2 linked regions of the Homo sapiens genome follow. The protein of the gene in region 1 purifies or fractionates together with the protein of each later gene. This does not show direct contact. Each region holds a gene or a part of one and is shown in the gene's direction. Other genes may lie near its edges. The genes, in order: STAP2 and STAT5A.

Region 1 (3,809 bases):
GAGTGAGCCACTGCATCCAGCCTGATCTATGTTTTTCAAATGTTGATATAATAACATCAAAAATCATAATATCAGCCAGGCATGGTGGCTCATGCCTGTAATCTGAGCACTTTGGGACGCCAAGGCAGAAGGATAGCTTGGGCCCAGGAGTTCAAGACCAGCCTGGCAACAAAGCGAGACCCTCATGTCTAAGAGAAAAAAAAAAAAGCTGGGCGAGGTGGTGCATGCCTGTAGTCCCAGCTACTCAGGAGGCTGAGGCAGGAGAATCGCTTGAACCTGGGAGGTGGAGGTTGCAGTGAGCTGAGATCGCGCCACTGTACTCTAGCCTGGGCGACAGAAGAATGAGACTCCATCTCAAAAAAAAAAAAAAAAAAAAAAAAAAGAAGAAAAAGAAAAAAGAAAACGGCCCTTTGAAGCAGGGACTCTTCCCTAGTCCAATTTCATTGATGAGTAGACTGAGGCTCACTGACTTGGATTCTTTCCTTTCTTTTGTTCCCCAGGTAGAGACCTTGGAGTGTCGGGAAATGTGGAAAGGCTTCATCTTAACGGTGGTGGAGGTAAGAGTAGTGGCTCTCTGCGCCCTCTCTCCCATTCTCCAGATCTCCTCAAAAAGCCTCCTTTTTCTTTCTTTCTTTTTTTCTTTTTTTGAGACGGAGTCTCGCTCTGTCGCCCAGGCTGGAGTGCAGTGGTGCGATCTCGGCTCACTGCAAGCTCCGCCTCCCGGGTTCACGCCATTCTCGTGCCTCAGCCTCCGGAGTAGCTGGGATTACAGAAGCCCGCCACCACGCCCGGCTAATTTTTTTGTATTTTAGTAGAGACGGGGTTTCACTGTGTTAGCCAGGATGGTCTCTGTCTCCTGAACTCGTGATCCACCCGCCTCAGCCTCCCAAAGTGCTGGGATTACAGGCGTGAGCCACCGGGCCCGGCCAAAATTTTGTTTTATTTTTTTGAGACAGAGTCTCACTCTGTTGCCCAGGCTGGAGTGCAATGGCACGTTCTCAGCTCACTGCAACCTCTGCCTCCCCGGTTCAAGCAATTCTTGTGACTCAGCCTCCCGAGTAGCTGGGATTACAGGCGTCCGCCACCACGCCTGGCTAATTTTTGTATTTTTAGTATACATGGGGTTTCACCCTGTTGGCCAGGCTGGTCTTGAACTGACCTTGAGTCATCTGCCCGCCTTGGCCACTCAAAGTGCTGGGATTACAGGCGTGAGCCACAGCGACCAACCGTATTTCTTATTTTATTTTTTTGAGACAAGGTCTCTCTCTGTTGCCCAGGCTGGAGTGCAGTGGTGTGATCATAGCTCACTGCAGCCTCCAACTCCCAGGCTCAAGCAGTCCTCCTGCCTCAGCCTCCCAAGTAGCTGGGATACAGACACACACTACCACATCTGACTAATTTAAAAATTTTTTTGTAGAGCAGGGTCTCACTATGTTGCCCGGGCTGGTCTCCAACTTCCGTGCTCAAGCAATCCACCCTCCTTGGCCTCCCAAAGTGATAGGATTATAGATGTGAGCCACCATGCCTGGCCACAGAGTGCTAAGTTTTTAAAAATTAGCTGACATTGGCCAGGCGTGGTGGCTCACGCCTGTAATCCCAGCACTTTGGGAGGCCGAGGCTGGCAGATCATGAGGTCAGGAGATCAAGACCATCCTGGCCAACACGGTGAAACCCTGTCTCTACTAAAAATACAAAAATCAGCTGGGCGTGGTGGCGGGAGCCTGTAATTCCAGCTACTCGGGAGGCTGAGGCAGGAGAATGGCTTGAACCCGGGAGTCGGAGGTTGCAGTGAGCCAAGATCGCGCCACTGCACTCCAGCTTGGTGACAGAACTAAACTCCATCTCAAAAAAAAAAAAAAAAAAAAAATTAGCTGACATCATTTATCAACCGGGAATTTTAGTCTACCTTCCTGATTTCCCTCTGATTTCCCTGTTTCCTACCTCACCCTGGCAGGCCATTGAGTTTGAGACCTGCCTGGCCCCTGCAGACTTTAGTTTGAGACCCTAGATTCCAGCATCTACTTTTTTTTTTTTTTTTGGTGGGGTTGGGGAGCGGGGAACGGAGTCTCACTCTGTCACCCAGGCTGGAGTGCAATGGCGTGATCTTGGCTTACTGCAGCCTCCGCCTTCCCAGGTTCAAGTGATTCTCCTGCCCCAGCCTCCCGAGTAGCTGGGATTACAGGTGTCTGCCACCACGCCCGGCTAATTTTTTGTATTTTTAGTACAAACGGGGTTTCGCCATGTTGCCCAGGTTGGTCTCGAACTCCTGACCTTAGGTGATCCGCCCGCCTCGGCCTCCCAAAGTGCTGGGATTACAGGCGTGAGCCACCGCGCCCGGCCCCAGCATCTACTCTCATGCAACACTCCTCTGCAACCCTCTCGAAGCCCTCTTTGCCCTCTAAGGTGTCAGAGTTCATTGCTCTGAGCTCTGGCCTCAATTTGCCACTCTGTGACTTGGGCACAGCCGTCCATTCCCGGCTGGCCAGGTGCAGTCACTGTCCCTCGATCGCCCCTCAGCTCCGTGTCCCGACCGACTTGACCCTGCTTCCTGGGCACCTATACATGATGTCTGAAGTCTTGGCCAAAGAGGAGGCGCGCCGTGCACTGGAGACACCCTCGTGAGTGTCCCGCCTGTCCCGAGGGGCTGCAGGATGGGGACGGGAGGTGGTTGTGTGGCTGAGGGTGGGCGGTGAGTTGGGTCCCCTGGAGTTGGGTCTTGGATTTTGCATGAGGACTGCCTTGGGGCTGGGGGTGGGGGAGGGGGAGGGGGAGTTATGGCCCATGCTGGGGAGGCAGGGCAGGATCTCCAGGAGCGGGTCTAGGGGCCTAGAGGACTGGTAAGGTCTTCAGTGGCGGGGCCTAGGCCTGAGGAGTAGGGACAGGGTCTGGGGGTGGTCAGTCTAGGTGTCTAGAAGGTGATGCTTCGTCTCCGGGGAGGAGTTATTTGTCGGAGAGGGTAACCGGGACCCTAGAGGCGGGGCCTGGATGGGGGGCGGAGCATCGTCTTTGTGGGCGGTTCTTGGTGATCAGGGAGGCGGGCAGGGCCTCCAGGGTAAGGTCTAGGTGTTTGGAGGGCGGGACAGGATCTCCAGGGGAGGCTCTAGGTGCCTACGAGGCAGGGCTGGGTCTCCCTAGGGGTTGGAGCTGCATCTCCGGGGCCAGAATTAAGAGCCTGGCTGGCCGCGGTGGCTCGCGCCTGTCATCTCAGCGTTTTGGGAGGTCGAGGCGGGAGGATTGCTTTTACCCAGTTCGAGACCCATCCTGGGCAACATAGCGAGACCCCATCTCTAAAGAAAAAAAAAACCAAAAAACCCGGCCAGATGCAGTGGCTCACGCCTGTAATCCCAGCACCTTGGGAAGCCGAGGCGGGCGGATCACCTGAGGTAGGGAGTTTGAGACCAGCCTGACCAACATGGAGAAATCCCGTCTCTACTAAAAATACAAAAATTAGCCGGGCCTGTGAGGAAGGGGAATCGCTTGAACCCGGGAGGCGGAGGTTGCGGTGAGCCGAGATAGCGCCATTGCACTCCAGCCTGGGCAACAAGAGCGAAACCCTGTCTCAAAAAAAAAACAAAAAACCCCACAAAAACTAGGAGCCTGGAAGGCCGGACTGGGTCTCCGTGGGAGGGGCCTGGGTCTGGAGAGCAGGGCAGGGTCTCCTGGGCCTAGGGGATGGGGATGGGGCTGGGTCTCAGAGGAGGCAGGGTTTACGTGCAGAAGAGCGGACTTGGTCTCCGGGGTCCCGAGTGGGTGACGCGGCCCGCCACAGGTGCTTCCTGAAGGTGAGCCGGCTGGAGGCACAACTGCTC
Region 2 (3,809 bases), on another chromosome or scaffold:
GCGTCACTCACTTGCTCACCGCCGCTCACCTCCTGCTGTGTGGTCCAGTTCCTAACAGACCACCGACCTGTACCAGTCCATGGCCCAGGGGTTTGGGACCCCTGTGTTACAGTCAAAAGATACGGTAGATTGGAAGTGCTTCATAAGACTGGGTATGATGGCTCACACCTGTAATCACAGCACTTTGGGAGGCCGAGGCGGGTGGATCACCTGAGGTCGGGAGTTCGAGACCAGCCTGACCAACGTGGAGAAACCCCGCCTCTACTAAAAATACAAAATTAGCCGAGCGTGATGGCACATGCCTGTAATCCCAACTACTCAGGAGGCTGAGGAAGGAGAATCGCTTGAACCCGGGAGGTGGAGGTTGCAGTGAGCTGAGATCACACCATTGCACCTTTAGCCTAGGCAACAAGAGCAAAACTCCATCTCAAAAAGAAAAAAAAAAAAAAGAGAAAGTGCCTCATAAACTGTGGGTTTTTAATTCGCTCCAAACCAGATATGAAGATCTTGGAGGGGAAGATGAGGATGAGGAACAGAGATATAGAGGTGTCTGGGGATAGTTCCTGAGGCTCCCTGGGAAAAGCTGAGGCAGAGGCTGAAGGAGAGGAAGGGCTGGGCATAGCATGGGGCTGGCATGGCTGGAGCAGAGGATGGCGCTGGAGGCTACTGTTGGATTCTTTCAGAAAACATATGACCGCTGCCCCCTGGAGCTGGTCCGCTGCATCCGGCACATTCTGTACAATGAACAGAGGCTGGTCCGAGAAGCCAACAATGTGAGTGTCCCTTGGGGATGGGGAGGAGTGTTGAGAAGTCCCTCCATATGCCTTTCTCTCCAGAAACAACTGTGTTTATATAAAACAGCAGCACGAGGAGAGCACCAAGAAGATGAGGGACGTGGGCAAGTGTAAGAGGTGGCAGCATTGCACGCCGGGGTGGAGTGACCCCCTGGATCCAGTCCCTGGCTCTACCACTTACTAGCTGTGTGACTTGAGCAAGTTGCTTAATCTCTCTGAGCCTCTGTTCCTGTTTTTTTTTCTTTTTTCTTTTTTCTTTTTTTTGAGACGGATTCTTGCTCTGTCACCCAGGCTGCAGTGCAGTGGCGTGATCTCGGCTCACTGCAAGCTCTGCCTTCCAGGTTCACACCATTCTCCTGCCTCAGCCTCCCGAGTAGCTGGGGCTACAGGCGCCCACCACCATGCCCGGTTAATTTTTTGTATTTTTAGCAGAGATGGGGTTTCACTGTGTTAGCCAGGATGGTCTCAACCTGACCTCGTGATCCGCCCACCTCGGCCTCCCAAAGTACTGGGGTTACAGGCGTGAGCCACCACGCTTGGCGCCTACTGTTTTTTCCCCCCCGAGATGCAGTCTTGCTCTGTTGCCCAGGCTGGAGTGCAGTGATGTGATCTCTGCTCACTGCAACCTCTGCCTCCCAGGTTCAAGCAATTCTCTTGCCTCAGCCTCCCGAGTAGCTGGGATTACAGGTGCCCACCACCATGCCCGGCTAATTTTTTTTGTATTTTTAGTAGAGACGTGGTTTCACTATGTTGGCCAGGCTGGTCTTGAACTCCTGACCTCATGATCCACCCGCCTCGGCCTCCCAAAGTGTTGGGATTACAGGCGTGAGCCACCGTGCCCGGCCTGTTCCTACTCTTGTAAAATGGAGATAGCAATCATACCTATCTGTGTCAGAAGAACTAACACAGGCAGGCTCAGAGAAGTGAGGCCCAGGGAGGGGTAACAGGGACACATCTCCCCAGTTCTGAAATAATAAAGGCACTGGGCATCTACATGGACAATGGCACAGTGCTGTACTATCTGCAATAGAGCAAAATGAATTTCACAACATGACGTGACAGAAATCTTAGAACAGTGACCGGAGCACAGGTCATATTTATTATTTCTTTCTTTATTTGTTTGTTTGTTTATTTATTTTTGAGACTGAGTCTCACTCTATCATCTAGGCTGGAGTGCAGTGGCGTGATCTCGGCTCACTGCAACCTCCACCCCTTGGGTTCAAGAGATTCTCATGCCTCAGCCTCCCAAGTAGCTAGGATTACAGGGGCCCACCACCATGCCCGGCTAATTTTTGTATTTTTAGTAGAGACAGGGTTTCACCCTGTTGGCCAGGCTGGTCTCGAATTCCTGACTTCAAGTGATCCACCTGCCTCGGCCTCCCGAAGTGCTGGGATTACAGGCATGAGCCACCACGCCCGGCCTATTACGTATTTATTGTTGTGGACATGGATTTCAGGATTTACTCAGTAGACATTTATTGAGGTCTTACTGTGTGTCCGATGCTGGGCTATCATCAGAGAAACACATAAAGGCCTGGTTCTTGCCTGGAAGGAATTCTGGCAGTGATGGATTCTCTAGAGATGAGCTGAGTGCTAAGGGGGCCTAGGTGGAAAAAGCACCCAACTCAGATTGGGGCAGGCTGGCAGGGGAGCGTCCTGTGGACAGGCATGTCTGAGCTACAGTGGAGAAAGGCAGGAGAGGAGGGATGAATTTTCTAATGAAAAGACAGCAGCTGCGAGAGCAGGAGGGCATGAATCTTCTTATCACATTGGAAGACTTGTAAGTGGTCAGTGTAACTGGGGAGAAGGAACCAAGTGGGGAGTTGCCATGGATAAAAATAGATAGAGAGGGCCAGGCGTGGTGGCTCACATCTGTAATCCCAGCACTTTGGGAGGCCAAGGTGGGCGGATCACCTGACGTCAGAAGTTCGAGACCAGCCTGGCCAACATGGTGAAACCCAGTCTCTACTAAAAAATACAAAAATTAGCTAGGCGTGGTGGCGGGCGCCTGTAATCCTAGCTACTCGGGCGGCTGAGGCAGGAGAATTGCTTGAACCCAGGAGGGGGATGTTGCAGTGAGCTGAGATTGCACCACTTCACTCCAGCCTGGGCAACAGAGCGAGACTCTGTATAAAAAAAAAAAAAATAGGGGTTAGAAACCAGGTCACAAAGGGTCTTCCAGCACAGCCCCTGTGTCCCTGACTTGTTGCCATCACAGAGCTATCTGCAAACCTAAAAATGACTTCAGCCTCATTGACAAATCCATGTCCATGGTGCTGGTGCTGTCATGGTCTGGGAGCTCATTCCTTCCTCCAACCATACAACTGTTCCTGAACACCCCTGGCATTCTAGGGCTTGGGGATTCTGTAGTTCACAGGAAAGGCAAGGTCCTAGCCCTTGGGAACCTCACATCCTTGTGCAGGGAGACAGACAGAAACATGTAAGCAAATACAAGAACAACACACTTTTAGATAGGACTACTGTGAATTGGCTCGTCAGAGATGACCCCTCTGCAATGGTACCAGTTAAAGTGCTTTGCCTCAGGAGGATCTGATGCCAGAATGTTCCAGACTGTTGGAACAATAAGTGCAAGGGCCCCAGGGCAGGAACATGCCTGTGTGTTCAAGGAACAGAAACAGAAAGCACACATTCCCAGCGAGCTGGGGTTGGAGGTAGGCAGGGCTATGGCCAGCAGACACCATGGGAAGGGGTTTGGATTTTATTCTGAGAACAGTTCATTGGAAAGCCTCTGAGGACTTGTTCCTCTTCATCCATGTGCTCCCTCCCTTTGTGACCTGGTTTCTACCCCTCTCTCTCTATTTTTTTTTTTTTTGAAACGGAGTCTCGCTGTGTTGCCAAGGCTAGAGTGCAGTGGCGCAATCTCGGCTCACTGCAACATCCCCCTCCTGGGTTCAAGCGATTCTCCTGAATGTGCTGAAGGAATGGCTGGATCCAAGGGGAGCTTGTTGATGCCTCCCCTCTAACTTCATTTCGGGGTCTCCAGGATGCCTGTGA

The links.
Region 2: the proteins of STAP2 (region 1) and STAT5A purify together in Homo sapiens (co-immunoprecipitation; one study listed by IntAct). This does not show direct contact.

The regions. Positions count from the first base shown.
Region 1 is NC_000019.10:4,328,770-4,332,578, reverse strand, and holds part of STAP2 (signal-transducing adaptor protein 2), read left to right. Parts: intron 1-500; coding exon 501-557; intron 558-2,517; coding exon 2,518-2,618; intron 2,619-3,769; coding exon 3,770-3,809. UniProt on the Homo sapiens protein: Substrate of protein kinase PTK6. May play a regulatory role in the acute-phase response in systemic inflammation and may modulate STAT3 activity.
Region 2 is NC_000017.11:42,291,289-42,295,097, forward strand, and holds part of STAT5A (signal transducer and activator of transcription 5A), read left to right. Parts: intron 1-683; coding exon 684-773; intron 774-3,809. UniProt on the Homo sapiens protein: Carries out a dual function: signal transduction and activation of transcription. Mediates cellular responses to the cytokine KITLG/SCF and other growth factors. Mediates cellular responses to ERBB4.